2 separate regions of the Homo sapiens genome follow, and region 1 is linked to region 2. A link means that fine-mapping ties the variant in region 2 to the expression of a gene that starts in the linked region. Tissue or cell type: subcutaneous fat. Region 2 holds a variant in brackets; the other region holds the start of a gene. All regions are shown on one strand. Distances are between the middles of the regions.

Region 1 (8,184 bases), 260 kb after region 2:
AATGGGAAAGAATGAAGGAGGGATAAACGGGAGGGAGAAAATGAAAACAGCAAGATAATAATTAAGCATGAGTTGGATAGGGAGACATTGAAATATGATAGATTAAGAAAAAAAATAATTTGTATTGTCTACCTGAAAGCAATCAATTATATGAACTTAACAGACTTTTATGGAGAAAGTATTTCCTCATCTTCTGTCAAGGGTACATGAATCTTTCAGAAAGTCTGACCATATCCTAGATCACAAAACAAGTAGAATTGGAAGAGATGCATGTATATTTAAATAATTGCCTGTAAACTGATGTTTTTAGGAACAGATTATAAACAGTTGGTAATATTGCAATGATGAGTTTTTAAATTGCTAATTTGTGTTGCTCTTGCAGTTTAGCCATCTTTACTTAATTTTAATCATATAATTGTTTAATCATACAATACGTAGGAATAAAAGAACCAAATTATTGACTTCTATAGTTTCCTTTGGACAAGTGATTACGAGTAAATAAATATTAGAGAGACCAGTTGTGCCTTCCCAAGCGGCATTCCCCCCTCCCCCCCCATCCCCCCACCACAACACACCCATTCCCACCCCTGCCCCACCATGCAAATGCCTACAATTTGGACACACTGGGGGCAAGTCAGACTCTGAGACAGAAAAAGGCTTTCCTGGCACTGGTATCTGGAAGCATCCTTCCTGGATCAGGCCTAAACTGCTTATAGAACCTGTGCCTGCCTGCTCTAGGCAGTGAGGCTGAGCCTACCTCCTTTCATTCTGGAGCCACCAACTTCATCCAACACAGGAAAAGGGAATACTGAAACACTTTGAAGCCCACTTTCGGAGCTCTCCTGCATTTTGGATATCTGTCTCTGAACACCCTCCCCCACCATGTACTCAGATACACACTGTTCCTCGTATAAACAAAAGCCATATTGTGATGCTAAGAGAATTGTCATTTGGAGACAGTGGACTAGTAGATTACCTTTTTTGGTAAATGGTACATAAACCAAAAAGAACTTTGTGATTCTGCTAACACTGAAACACACACACAAAAATCCTCATTTTCTCCCTCCACCCATTAAACTTGTTAAAATCACCTAGGTATTCACATTGTTGGTTTGCTTTGTGACAAGCACCCAGAAGCCTGATCATCCAGGCCTCTATCTAATGTCTAATGCCCCACTATGAGTGTTTTGATTAAATAAGTTTTAGTTCTAATTCATCACTTGAATTTGGTTTATTCTAGGAAGCTTCCTGCACACTCCTGAAAATGCCCTCAGTTATAGCTTCTGGAAATGACTTAGTGCCCCAAACTCTGCCCTTAATAATTAAAGTGCTTGACAAAAGATAAGTTGAAATTCAAGCTCTGTGAGTTGGCCCCAGCTTTCCTTTGCAGCTTTGACCTCCCCACCTCCAAAGCCTAACCCCCTCCTCATCAGGTCTTGCCGTTGGAACCTAATCTGTCTGGTTGGACCTCCTCCCTGCCCCAGAACGCCACTTGCTTAGTCCCAGCTGAGTTCCTCACTGGTATACTCCACATTGCTTCTCCATTGCAGAAAGGGATGGGGCCTGGGACTGGCTGAGGAGTGGGGTGGGATGCTAAAACACACAGTCAAACTTTGAATGCACAGACCTCTCCAGAGATCTGACACAGTCCTCAGATGGCTTACTAGAGTAGTGAGGTTGGGGACAGGGGAATGGAGCACAGTGCTCATAACTTTCTTGAGAGTGTATGAAACTTAACAGGATCCTTGAGCAGTTTGGAAACCTTCCTGTTTCCCAGTAAAAATCACTGTCCTAAAACATAAAACTGGAAAAAAAGTGGTTTGCTAGTAAATGTTTAAAAACAGCTCCAGAGATGTGAAGGTTGCTGGGAGAAACTTGATTTGTAGCATTTACTTCTTCAGTTGTGAAAATTCCCTGACTGTGGTGAAAATTCTCTGACCATGGCCACTTTCAAGCTACTACCATTATGTCATTGAATGCTGGGATGAGATAAGATGTGCACATTGGGTTCTCCTGAACCATACAGAGCTAGCCAACATCAGTACAACACTGGGAAGGGATCAGGTTTGCCCTGGGCTTCTCCTGTTTGGGATATATAAAACAGAGTTAGGTTTAAAAAATATCATCATCTTACATTAGACTCGCTTATGGAGAAAGGCTTCCCACAACACCCTGTGAACCTTGGTGCTTCACCTCTATCCTTCAAGCTCCACTTTCTTGAAGCTCTTCTATACTGTAAATGTTTTGAAAATTGGCATGGATGTTTTCACCCTGACAGATAATAACTATTACTGTTGTCTTCCAAACAACCATCAAGTTTGTCTAATGTTGCCTTCTCAATGTTTTGGGAACTCTGACCCTCCCCTCCTTCTCTGCTACTGCTCCCTAGTTTAGGCACACAGTACAAGCAAAGTGCTTGCAATTATCCAAACACATACTATCATGACTTACTTGATGATCTTTTCTATTGCAATCCTCTTTGATTCTCAAGGCTCCTCCTTCTCTGGCTGCCTCCTACTTCTTCTCTAGTATGATTTATCCTTAGACTACAAACTCCTTAAGAAGAGAAACTGTCATCCTTTCTGAACTGTCAGCATCTAGAACAATCCCTGACACAAAGAAAGTACTTAACATTTGTGTTGAATCAATGGCTGCTTGCTGTGTCCTAGGTGCTATGTGGTGGCTTACAGGAAGGTTTCCATTCAATCCTACCCCAAACCCTTCATTGTAGTAAGTGCAATTATTATCCCCATTTTACAAATAAGAAAACTGAGGCTTGGAGGCTAAATAACTTGCCCAGAAACACATCTTTTTATTCATATGCCTATTCTATTCATTACACAATAATCTATAGTTTATAATGGAAGCCACAATTGATATCACCTGATGCATGAAGATATGATAATCAATTTGGCTGTAAAAGAGCTGTTACTTTATTTTTACACAGTTTGTTCTTGAATTAAAGTGTTTTTCATTAGATAATTTGAAATCTTTTATGCAGGTAGAAAATGTACATAAAAGGCTGGGCATGGTAGCTCACGCCTGTAATCCCAGCAGTTTAGGAGGCTGAGCCTCCAGACCAGCTTGGCCAACATGGTGGGACCCCGTCTCTACTAAAAAATACAAAAACTAGCTGGGTGTGGTGGTGCGCGCCTATAATCCTAGCTACTCGGGAGGCTGAAGCAGGAGAATTGCTTGAACCTGGGAGGTGGAGGTTGCAGTGAGCCAAGATCGCACCACTGCACGCCAGCCTGGGCGACAGAGTGAGACTGTCTTAAAAAAAAGGAAATGTACATAAAGAAAAATTTGTCTATTTTTTAGCCAATTAGTCTATCATGTTGATATTTCTTATCAATTAGTCTGTGAGCCCATTGGATGCTATACTTTAATCTCATCATATGTTATATATCAGGAGCTTTGATTAGTGTCTTATTCATACATTATCATTATAAAAAGTCTTTCATAATCAACATTTGTGAAAGGTTGCTCTATATTATTAAAATCATGTTACTCTAAGACATTTGGGGAAGGGCTTACAGATTAATAGTAGTAGTAGTAGTGGTAGCAGCAGCAACCACTACCATTTATTGAGCACCTACTACATGCTAGGCCTATTGTGCTGTTAGTTTTACTTACATCATCCCATTGAGGCCTTGTGAAATAGGTTCTGCTGTTTTTTGTTTGTTTGTTTGTTTTTTACTTTACTGTTGGGGAACCTGGGACTCAGAGAGTTTACTCACTTGCTTGAGGTCACACAACTATTGAATGTAAAATGTGGACTAAAATATACATTTGTATGTCTCTAAAGCCTGGGCTTTTACCCCAAGATGGACTTTGAAGGCTGTCCAAGTTACTTAACCCTCTCTGAGTTTCCGTTTCCTCATCTGTAAAACTGAGGGGAGTAACACTTATTTTGCAGAGTTGCTCTGAAGATGAGAAATAATGGATCCCAGGGCCCAGGGGCACACAGTAGGCACTTAAACTGTGGTGATGTTTATGCATAAATGGGGCGTTAAAATGGGCAGGGGAAGATCTGAGATCCCGATAAAGGTATTGGGGAGCTGGAGAGAAGGATCTACAAATCTTCTTGAGAGCTGGCCTTCTCCCCCCCACAATACAGTGACCCAGTGAAACTCTGAGAGACAGGCGAGGGGGCAGGGGCCTGAATTTGGCTCCAGCAACCTCTGCAGGGAGTCCGGAGAGAGGCGGGGAGCTGGGAGGGGCGTAGAAATCCCCGTCGTCAGAGGACTGCAGGTGCCAGGCAGAGTTGGTGTAGGTGGGCTCCCCGAGCCCGGCGCAGGGAGGGGAGGAGGTTGGGGCGGGCCGGCAGGCGGGCGGGGGAGAGAGGAAGGCGGGGCTCAGAGCCGAAGAGGCTGTCCTTAGACAGCTCTTCTCATGCCGGGCAGTTTGCTGCATCTGGAGGAGCTCACTGGAGAATCTCCAACATCGGAGCGGGCCTTCAACTACCGTAAGTACCTACAAATGAGCGCATAGTTCAGTGGCTGAATATTAAATACTGGCCACCGGATCCTAAACAAAACCCCGAAAGAGTCTCCTTGCTGTAATTAATTGCCGTAAATCAAACTGCTCCCCAGTCTGTCCCCCCACCCGCTTCATTCCTGCCTTTCTCCTTTCCTTCCCGGATCCCAGACCTGCCTCGGTGAGAATCTCTGGGCACTGTAGATATCTCCCCTTTTCCTTCTCAGTCTTCCCTCCAAACCCTCAGCTGAGCATGTACCCGGCACCCCGCCGAGCCCAACCCCTTTGATTCCTGGAGCCCTCAAAGCTATGCAGGGGGCGAGCCATTAGACATTTCAGATATGTCACCCTCAAAAGCACTGCGGCGCTGCCTAAGGGTGGGGAAAGTGCTTGGGGTGGAGTAGGAGGGAAGGGTAAAACGGCTAGGCAGCCAAAGTTGGGGGTGGGGGTGGGGTGAAAGGCCAAAATGGGCGTGGCCAACTAACCCAAGGCTTGGGGCTGTTCTCATGTTCCCCCGGTATAAGATTCATCATCTGGGCTGAATATAAATGGTACAATTTCCTTAGTGATTGAGGAGGGGTCAGCCATGCCAAAAAGCCCAGCTTCCCTGACTCCCCTCAATCCCCCAGTAGGCAAAGATCCTGGTTTAGGGGTCCAAGTGGCAAGGCTGAAACCTCAGATGGCATTTCCTGGGTGTAATCCCAGGTTGAACCTCTCCCTTGGCAGTGGAACCTGGCTTCCCCCAAAAACTCCTGGCCCAAAGCCCCAGGGTAACAAAGCAACAGGGTAGCATCCAAGCTTTGGCCTGGCCCTGAGAGGAGTGGGAGCAAGGGACTGTAGGAACTGAGATGGAAAGGGCATCTTTAGGGCCCTACACCAGTTGGATGCCCCCTTTGAAAAGAAGAAAAAATAAGCATCTTTTTAAAATGTAATGTTCACTATGTGCCTGGCACTGTACATGTATTATCTCTAACCCAACACAACAATAATGTTAGGTCGATATTACTCCTCCACTTTACAGATAAGGAAAATTCAGAGTGGGTAATCTGAAAATCCTTTGATACAAAGTGAAAAATGTACAATGGACCTATGCTTCCTTGGATTTCTCACTGTCCACTTGTTCCCTACAGTCCAGATATTTTGAACACGAAATATCCTCCTCTTCCTGCTCCTCCATCCTACCCAGTGTTAGCACTGGGGCAAGTTTGAGGCTGAGGTCCAAGGTCAGTCTGGAAAAGCAAAATCAGTTCCTTTCTCTATTCTGGGAGCTGCCTCTTCCCCACTCTTCTGAGCTAAGATTTAATAACAGCTGGAGTCAGCCAGGACTTCAGACTCCCAGTAGAAAGTTGGTGGAAGAGAATTAGCTTGAGTTTGCGTGGCTGGGACATACCTTCCCTTGGTGAAAGGTTACTGTGGGGGGAGGTGGAGAGAGGCATGAAAGCTCAAGAGTCTACCTTGTGTATATGCAAGGCCTATGGTAAATAATGACTTTGGTCAGGGAGAATGGAAAGCCTCCCTGAACTCAAATATCTTTGCCGTATTTCCTGAGATTCAAACAATTCCATTTCCCTTAGAGGCAATCAACAAAACTGTTTAGAAGTTAAGGGCAACGAAAGAATCATTTAGACCTTATGTAAATTAACTCAAGCAGCTTGATTTTCTAACACATGCTTGACACTGGGGTATTGAGCTTTTAGGGGTAGGAGACAAGAATGAGAGTAATATTGGATCTAAAGCATTCTATGGAAGGGAAGGATATCCAAGGGATCAAGTGAGAGGGGTAAGGGAGGGTGAAGAGGGAGTGAAGGGTACCTCTGGGAGTTTAAATCATTGTTTTAGATCCATAGGCCTTGGAGTTAAACATGGATTCTAATTTGGGCTCTAATATTTAATATCTTTTGACTTTGGGCAAATTATATAACCTCTCTAAGCCTCAGTTTGTTCATCAGTAAAATGGGGATGGTAGTAATGCCCCCTCTCTTAAGTTGTTGGAGGACTCTCTCTCTCTCTCTATATATATATATACACACACACACACATATATACGTATATATATACACACATATATACGTATATATACACACATATATATACATGTATATACACATATATATACGTATATAAACATACGTATATATATATATATGCATATCTGAAAAGGTGACTCTGCACCTCCCATCTCCCCCATCCTGTGGAGCTTCTGCAGGCTATTCTGGGCTTCTGAGATCCCAGAGACAAATCCATATTTCAACAAATCTGACATCTTTGATACCAACAAAGACCTTGAGCAGGATAGGGAAGTGAGGGAAAGGAGCAAGGAGAGGAAGCAGCAGGTGACCTTGTAATACCCTGCATGCCTGTGAGGAAGTACAATGTAGGGTTGTCAAGTGCAATTTAGCCATCTAAACTAAACTTTAAGGAGCAGGACAAGTCCTCTGAGTAAAAACAATTCTGCTTTTAGATCCCACCACCTGCTGAGGAGAAAAATTCTTCAAGACTCAGAGCACACAGCCAGCACCAGAGGCCCCATGACCCTGGACAGACCAGGGGAGGGGGCCACCATGCTGAAGACATTCACTGTTTTGCTCTTTTGCATTCGTGAGTACAAGGAAGGGGTGAGGGGCAAGTGACCCTGTCATAGGTACCCACTCATTAGGGGTGGGAGAGGAAAGTATTGAGGTTTGAGCACAGGATGGAGACAACAAGGGAGCTCTCCTTTACCATAATCTCTCTTTTCAGGGATGAGTCTGGGTATGACATCAATAGGTAAGTGAGTCCTGCCCTCTCAGGCACCTCCTTCCTAAAGGATCCAAGATGCTGGCGTGTCTCCATGACCTTGGACATAATGCCTTGAGATTCCAGAGATAGATTGGGCTGATTGGGAATCAGAGGACTTGGTTTCCTATGGCATGGTGAAAAAGCTTTATCTCAGATGGAAAAGAGACCATCAGACTTTATTCTCCAATTCATTTGGACCCCTTGACAAAATATCTTGGGGTTCTTATACGATGCCCCACAGGAGCACACTCCTGTCCCCAAGGGAAGACAAAATGAGGGATCTGGGTCCGGGCTAATTTTAAGGGACATTGTGGGACATGTTATGGGAGGGAGAGGGTTGGACTGCTCATATCTTTTTGATCTTTGGGAATAACAGTGATGGACCCTCAACCAGAGTTGTGGATAGAGTCCAACTACCCCCAGGCCCCTTGGGAGAACATCACGCTTTGGTGCCGAAGCCCCTCTCGGATATCAAGCAAGTTCCTGCTGCTGAAGGATAAGACACAGATGACCTGGATCCGCCCTTCCCACAAGACCTTCCAAGTTTCATTCCTTATAGGTGCCCTTACTGAGTCCAATGCAGGTCTTTACCGGTGCTGCTACTGGAAGGAGACAGGCTGGTCAAAGCCCAGTAAAGTTCTAGAGTTGGAGGCACCAGGTAAGATGACAGTGATACTCAAGAATCAACTCCAGCTCCTGAGATTCAAACTTGCCTTCCAGGGGAGAGTTTGTTTCACAAATGCATGCAAGCATGCATCCCACAGTTAGTAAATAAGGGCCTACTTTGTATTGGGCAATGCAGAGGGGGGATGCAGACTCTGGAGCAGAGATAGGAGAAGGAGGGGTGGCAAACAAGGATCATACAGGGAAACCTCAATTAAAGTAGAGCTCTCCTCTGCTGCTCCCTAGACAGTACTATCCTTGCTT
Region 2 (8,184 bases):
TTCCCTTACCTTTTCTCTCATAGCCCTTCCAAAGGCTTTGTAGGCCCCTAATTCTCTGTGTTAAATGCCTTCCTGAAATAACTATAGAGTAGTTTCTGTTTGCCTGATCGAACTGAGTGCTACACTTTACAGGTGAAGAGACCTAAGCAGGGGGTAACTTGAGTGAAGAAGTGGCAGAAGGAAGGACTGAATCTAACAAGTTTTGCCCCAGGGCTTGTGCTCTAAGTAGTTATACTCCACTGCCTCTCTTCAACTGAAAACCCAAATCCTATAAATGGGGCACTGTATCTTTTTCTGAAATCTCCATGAATATTTCCATGGAAATGATCATTTGGAGCCTGCTTTTCAGTTTGTAAACTTTCTTCTCAACTTTTGACAGAACCATCTTAGTTTCAACACAGTCTTTCCATCTTTCTTTCCAGGGTGAAGCAAGGTAAGCTTCACTACTCAGCCATTGGGGATGGGGAGTAGGGAGGAGTCCAGTGGAAGGTTTCACAGGATCCTTGTGATTGATCAGGCAGAGAAGCACTACTCAATCTCAGGAATTTTCAAAAGCCCAGCATTGATTTCATTTCACAACACCCTCACAGAGTTCATTTTTATCTTTAAAATAAATTAATATCAATGTAAAATTAGATAGCCTCTAGAGTTAGTGCCTAGAAACTGAATGTTAATGCTGGAAGGGCCAGAGCTGTGTTAACTAGCTGCCGTGTTTGCCTTCTTTTTCAGTCAAAGCTAACATTTAAAGTCAGAGAGATAGATCTATATATATTGATCTGGAGGAATGTTCATGATATATTGTCAAGTGGAAAAAGCAAGTTGCAGAGTAAATTGATGATATGCTTGCATTTTTTAAGAAAATAAGAGCAAGCCCTATATAAAATAACACCCGGATGCAGAATGTTAGAACTAGAGAGGTCTTTAGGTAGCTAAACACAATCTTCCTGTTATATTGATAAGCAAGTTTAAAGGCCAGAGAGAGATATAACTAAGGTTACACAGCTTGTTAGTAGCAGAATCAATTCCACAACCTTCATCTCCAGACTCCACTATGTCACTCTGTCTGTAGGCTGTGCCCATACCAACAAGTCAATAAAGGGAGAAAGAACCTAGTGACATAGCTATACTATTTTGTAGTAGAGGGACCATTATTGAAAATGTGCATCCCATTTTAAGCTGTAAACCAACCTGTAATAGAGAGTGAAATATTTTTCCCTCCAAAGGCAGAATCATTAAAACCTATACTCTTAATATTCCACCTAATTTCTGAATTTTCCTCTGTGCGAAGACACTCTTTGATTCTTTTAATATTTCATTGATTGTGCCAGTTTATGTTTATTTCACAATGTTTGCTTGAAAGGTTTATCTTGATAGTAAGGAACATTTTGCACAAAGCATGAGACTTACCCTAATACCTAGCATAGTGCCTGCCTTAAAGTACAAACCTAATGTTTGTTAAATGGATAAATTAAAGATTGAATTCATTTGCCTTTTTCTGAATTTTTTTCTTTCTCAATATTAAAACATTATTTCAGAGATGAAGAGTACCATGTACCTTTAAAAATGTATACAGACACATGCACACATATGTTTATTGTAGCACTATTCACAATAGCAAAGACTTGGAACCAATCCAAAAGTCCAACAATGATAGACTGGATTAAGAAAATGTGGCACTTACACACCATGGAATACTATGCAGCCATAAAAAATGATGAGTTCATGTCCTTTGTAGGGACATGGATGAAATTGGAAATCATTCTCAGTAAACTATCACAAGGACAAAAAACCAAACACCGCATGTTCTCACTCATAGGTGGGAATTGAACAATGAGAACACATGGACACAGGAAGGGGAACATCACACTGTGGGGACTGTTGTGGGGTGGGGGGAGGGGGGAGGGATAGCATTAGGAGATATACCTAATGCTAAATGACGAGTTAATGGGTGCAGCACACCAGCATGGTACATGTATACATATGTAACTAACCTGCACATTGTGCACATGTACCCTAAAACTTAAAGTATAATAATTAAAAAAAAAGTATACGGTTTGAATAAATCTTGCACTTGTTTTGAAATTAAGCTGTTTTGATAAGTAGTTTATTCATCCTCAATTATTTTTCATTTAGTTAGTAAACACGTAAGACAGTCTCCTTGTATCCATGGTACTCCCTTTGCAACACCATACAATGTCTCTTCAGCCCCCCAGCAGTCACAGTAAGAGGAACACACTGAGTATCTGTTTGCTCAGTAGTGCTGGGTACTGTGCATTTTATTTTTTTCTACCTGTTTGTGTCTGGTTCCTCACAAACAGGTAGAAAAGGCTTCTTGGGAGATGACTTCATCATATGTGGTGGAGGCCCAAAGTAAAGTGAGACCAGGAGACAGGATATCTGGGTCTTCGTTCTAGATCTGCTTCCAAACAGTTTCATGATCTTGGGAAATTTACTCCACATTCAGTGAGCCTTAGATTTCTCATCTAAAATCGGTTACCTGTAATAGATCATTGTTTATCAAAACCGTTCCTTTTAGTTTTAGAACTCCCTTTTCAAATGAAATAGCTCACAGGAAACGACCCCCCATTAGCAGGCTCCAGGCACCACAATTGAGTCCCTAAAAACTATATAAATCAAGATTTGAAAAACATTGCATTATGTCCATCAACAGAAAATGGGTTTTAAGATGCGGTAAATGTGTGCAATGAAATATTATTCAGCAATAAAAAGGAACAAATTACGGATACATGCAACAATATAGATGAATCTCAAGAGCAGGCTGAGTGAGAGAACCCAGACACAAAGGAGTACAGACTGCATGATTTTATTTATAGTCAATATTTAAAAAAACAAAAACTAACATATAGTGAAAGAAATCAGATCACTGGTTGGAATTGGGGGTAGAGGGAGGAAGGGATGGGTTACAAGAAGGCAAAAGGAAACTTCTGTAGGTGATGAAATTGTTAGGTAGCTGATTGTTGTGGTGATGCTGTGAGCATCTGTCAAAACTCATAGAATTGCACACTGTAATTGGACAAAGTTTATTGTATACAAATTATGTCATGATAAAGTGGATTAAAATATCACTACATTAGTCATCTCTAGGGTTTCTTATGCCTTTAGATATAGTAAGTGGGATCTGGAATCAACCAGACCTAGATTTAAGTACTGGCTCTGTGGCCATGGGCAAATCACTCAGTTTCCACACTTCTAAATATGGATGGAAAATAGTGCCATGGCATTGAACCACTGTGTGAATTCTATGTGATAATAGATATAGAGAGCTTTGCTCAACCCCTAGCGTATCATAAGTTCTCAATAAATGGTAGCTGTATTTATAATTCTATGATTCTAAATAATTTTACAGACTTACTTTTACAAATTCGGAGGTGGCATATATATGATCTAAATTCTAATTTTGACTCCATTATCAATTATGTATGACTTTAGATGAGTCTCAATGTCTACTCTGTTTCCTCATTGTTAATACAGAGGGAAATTGTGGTGGTGTTTTTACCAATTCCATAGGAAAATTAGGGATATAAAATAGACTAATAGATTAGAAAGATGTTTTGAAAAACAAAAAGCAAAAATAAAACACTCTACACAAATGTAGGAAATAGCTATGATAATTTTTCTCATGATTCCAAGATTAAGTGAAACAAGGAGATTGTGCTTACGTAACAGGGCTTACCCTCAGTAAAGTTGTAAAGTTTCTGACATTTGTCTTCTGGCCTTTTATTATACCATTCTTTGTCTTAGTTTCCAATTTCAGTTATGCCTCACCTGCTGTCAACAGTTACAGAAGATTCTCTTGCTGTATAGGTCTCTTCTGTCAGTGAGAAAATTACTCTGATAAGTTCATTTACCTGAAGGTGAGTAACCTAATGGGTAGCCACTAACAATATTCTATGTAAAGAAAGAGCAAAAATAATACCTCTAATGGCAATTCAAGTCTCAGTAGGAATAATATTTGGGGTGGGAGCACTTCCTGAAGCTTCTCATATGTCAATCACTTCCAAAGATAAAGTCAGATCCTTTAAACCATTTTCTCCATCAGGGACGTTGTGTTATTTTAGACGTTTAGAAGCAAAGAAGGCTCATGTCCTTTTCAACATAACTTTCCTTATTGCCCGTTTAACATCTTTTTTTCTCAGGCTATATATCAGGGGGTTCAACATGGGTGTCAAAGCTCCATAAAACACTGAGATAAACTTGTCCTGGTCAGGGTAGGACTTGGACTGAGTTTTCATATACATGGAGATGGCTGACCCATAGAAGATTGTCACCACGGTCAGGTGAGAGCCACATGTGGTAAAGGCCTTGAGCCTGCCCTGGAGTGAGCGAATCCTTATGATAGCCATAGCAATTCGTATGTAGGAGAGGAGAACAAACCCAAATGGTAGCAGCAGGGTGAAGATACTGGTGATGAGGATCATAAATTCATTGAGGCTGGTATCAGAACAGGTCAGCTTAAT[G/C]AGGGAGAGAATCTCACAGGCAAAATGGTTGATGACATTAGCCCCACAGAAGTGAAGCCTCAGGGATAGGATGAGCATGGCAGTGAGCACAAGTGATGTCCCCCATGAGGTAGCAACCAAGCAGACACATACTGGGCCATTCATAACCACTGAATAACGCAGGGGATTGCTGATAGCAACCACACGGTCATAGGCCATGGCAGCCAGTAGGAGGCACTCTGCTGTGGCCAAAGCCAAGGAGACACTCGTTTGAGCCAAACATCGGGGATAAGAGAGGTAGGGATGGGTAGAGAAACAATGCACCAAAGCCTGGGGCATGGAAGCTGTTCCATAACAAAGGTCTAAGAAAGACAGGTTACTAAGGAAGAAGTAGATTGGAGTGTGGAGGTTGGGGTCAAAGTGAATAAGAAAGATCATAAATCCATTCCCCAACAATGTGCTGAGGTAAATTATCAGCACTAATGTGAAAAACGTGTCTCTCCATTGAGGATAGTTAGAAATGCCAATAAGGAGAAACTGAAACACTGCTGTGACATTGTCCATGGCCATCTTTCCCTCTTGCCACTATTCATTAAATGGATGCCAATTGGCTACTTAGTGTTACCTGAAAGAATGGGAATAAAGATGGAGGGTGTGAGAAAGGTGGAAAGAATTAGGGTGTGCAGGATCATTATCTTTGTCCTTTTCAGAAGAATGGGACACAAATGGAATAGATATCTATAATGGGAACAGAGGCAAAGCTAGATATCCTCCCTCAATCCTAAGAAAATGGAAAGTTCCTTATCTTTTTGAAAATAGTTATATGAAAATTTCTCCAGCCCTCCTCCACTAGAGGTCTTCTTGAATAATTTTTCCTAACTAAGAAGACAGGAAAGGTAGGCCATCTTCCTGACTTTCTCACGTCATTTTCCAAGATAAATCTGATATGTAGACATGGTTGAATCTCAGTTAGCTTGAGTTATTAATCTCAACCAACAGGGTACCTTCTGACACATGTCTTAGCTAAAATATTGTCTATGTTTGGGATGTCTCTCACTCCTAGATTGTGCATGCCTTCATTTTTCCATAGTTCCAGAATTTACCACGGTGCCTGACATAGAGTGGGTGCAAGGTAGCTCTTTGACCTGAGCTGATATTATGTAGATGTAGTAGTGAGGTCTGGGAGGACCCTCTTCTAATATCCCCTGCTGAAGTTACATTTCTAGCTTCTCCTACATTTTCTATTCTGTTGTCGTTGAGCCCCAGTTAGGAGTATGAAAACTGAACATGAAGTTTCTAAAAGTGTGGGTGGTAAGGAGAGGGTCTGAGTACGTAGCCTCACTGAAAAGGCTCTCTTATCCCATCCTCACCCATCTCTTTCCCCTAGCCCTGCTTCATTTTTTATAACACATTCTAATACCTGAAGTTATATTAATAATTTGATTACTTGCTTATTATTTGTCTTTCACTCAAATGTGAATTTAATAACAGGGCCCTTGTCTGCTGTTTACTGGTGTATTCCTAGAACATAGAACAGTACCTGGGGGATCACAAGAACCCAATAGGTAGTAAATGAATATATAAAGTCCTAAGCATTCAGAGCTGTTATTCAGAATCTACCTACTCCTCTTGCCACCTGCACTGCCATTCTTTATTCCAAGGCATCATCATCATTCACCTGGATTTTTCCAGTAACTTCGTCATTGGTTTTCCTGTTTCTAGTCTTCTTCCCATCCAGTTCAGATGATTCAGTTGAACTGTAAGTGAAATCAGGTCACTCTTCCATTAAAAAATTTATTCTATTTTTATTGAGGTATGACTGATATACAAAAAGGTACACATATTTTATGTATACATCTTGAGTTTGAAGATAAGTATATACTCATGAAACGGCCACCATAAATAATGCCGTAAATATAACAAACATCCCTAAAAGTTTCCTCCTTCTCTCTTTTATCTTTGTAATAAGAACACTTAACATAAGACCTACTCTCTTAATAAAATTTTAAGTATACAGTATCATATTGTTAACTATAGATTCTCATTTCAGCCTCTCTAAACACCAATCTCCTTACTATGACCTACGAGGCCCTATATGGTTTGCCTCCCAATCACCTCCTCTCTGAACGCATCTCCTACCACCCTTTCCCTTGCTCACTTTGCTCCAGTCACACTAGCCTCCTCACCATTCCTCAAATACTCAAAGCCCATCCCTTTCACAGAGCCTTTGATCCTGCTGTTCTATATTTGTAAAAACTTTCTGCTCCATATTTATGAAACCCAGATCCTTGCACAGCTCACCTTCTCAATTCCCTCAGGTTTTTACTTACAAGGCATCTTTTCAGTGTATCCTTCCTGGGTCACGTCATCTAGGAATTCATCTCCAGCCCCTGAAATTGCATTACATCCTTTCTGGGTCACCTCGTCTGGGAGTTCATTTCTAGCCATTGAAATTTTATATCCCCCTTTCCTGCATTATTTTCTCCTTAGAACTACATCTAGCATACTGTATAGCTTATCTATTAATTATGTTTATTGCTTGTCTCTATCAACTAGAATGTATGCTCAGTGAGGTCAGGGTTTTTCTGTTTTCTTCATTGCTGTGTGCCCAAAATATAGAATAGTACCTAGATAGGAGCTCAATAATTATTTGCTGAAGGAATGTGTGAATGGAGTTCTTTTGCTGTTCCTTATTGAAAGGCAACCTCTCTTTTTCCATCTGCCTCTTCCCTTGACATTACTGTTTCTATGCTAAGCACCCCTTTGATGTATATGTGTTTCTCCATGAGACTAACTCCCATTTTCTTTCTAATCCCCTCCTTGCAGCTTCCGCTACTCACTTGCTATGTCTCTAGACAAGTTTCTTCCCCTTACGTGCCTGAATTTTTATTTCCAATCTTGTTAAACTAAATTATCTCTAAGGTCCCGTCTAGTTTTAACAAGCTAGGATTCTCGACTTCCCTCAGATAAAGAAAAAAAGAACTCACTCCGCAGAGTATTGAAATGTGTTACATTTTTCTCCTTTGTTGGAGAGACATGTAGGCTACAGAAGCGGTTTTCTAAGAAATGAAGTATCCCTAATCATCTCTGAAATGGGAAACTCTCTCACTTGTCTTGTCCTAAAAAGTATCTTTTTTTTTTTTTTTTTTTAGATAGATTCTCACTCTGTCACCCAGGCTGGAGTGCAGTGGCGCAGTCTTGGCTCACTGCAACCTCCGTCTCCTGGGTTCCAGTGATTCTCCTGCCTCAGCCTCCCAAGCAGCTGGGATTACAGGTGCCCGACACCATGCCCAGCTAATTTTTGTATTTTTAGTAGAGACGGGATTTCACCATGTTGGCCAGGCTGGTCTCAAACTCCTGACCTCAGGTGATCCGCCCGCCTCAGCCTCCCAAAGTGCTGGGATTACAGGCGTAAGACACGGCTCCTGGCCCTTAAAAGTCTTTAAGAAAGAAAATTTCCTAACGTTTCCCTTCCATGTCATGGCCTTCTAGTAAGCTATCCCTGTGTCACATTGTCTACCTTTTTCAGCCTATCAGATAGGCTAGGTGCACAACAAAGGTAAATCCATATATCCAGGAAAGTGTTTGCTATTTGTGAAGAGGGAAACAAATGTAAGGGATGGAGAGGGTGGTGGTGACCTGGCTTCACAGGAGTGCCCTCAGAGCTTGAGAGACCTAACGCTGCCGCTGTCTTCATTTATCATAGGACCCCGAGAAAGAGATTTTG

Which allele goes with the higher level. Positions count from the first base shown, and alleles are read on the strand shown. Sizes are in standard deviations (SD) of each study's normalised expression.
In carriers of allele C in region 2, the expression in subcutaneous fat of the gene that starts at base 4,376 in region 1 tends to be lower than with G alone (small effect, 0.17 SD a copy in GTEx).

The links. PIP is the estimated chance that this variant, and not a neighbour inherited with it, causes the effect.
Region 1: it holds the start of IGSF1, and the variant in region 2 is the best candidate, but not a certain one, in a credible set for the expression of IGSF1 in subcutaneous fat (GTEx, PIP 0.57).

What each region holds. Positions count from the first base shown.
Region 1 is chrX:131,285,498-131,293,681 of GRCh38, reverse strand. It overlaps IGSF1 (immunoglobulin superfamily member 1), which reads left to right and starts at 4,376. Exons shown (of 20, transcript NM_001555.5): 1 at 4,376-4,468; 2 at 6,941-7,077; 3 at 7,219-7,245; 4 at 7,634-7,915. The coding sequence starts at 7,008. RefSeq lists an enhancer at 2,180-2,897.
Region 2 is chrX:131,540,917-131,549,100 of GRCh38, reverse strand. It overlaps OR13H1 (olfactory receptor family 13 subfamily H member 1), which reads right to left and starts at 5,027. Exons shown (of 1, transcript NM_001004486.1): 1 at 4,101-5,027. The coding sequence starts at 5,027. The coding sequence ends at 4,101. The variant G/C (reference allele first, on the strand shown) is at 4,479.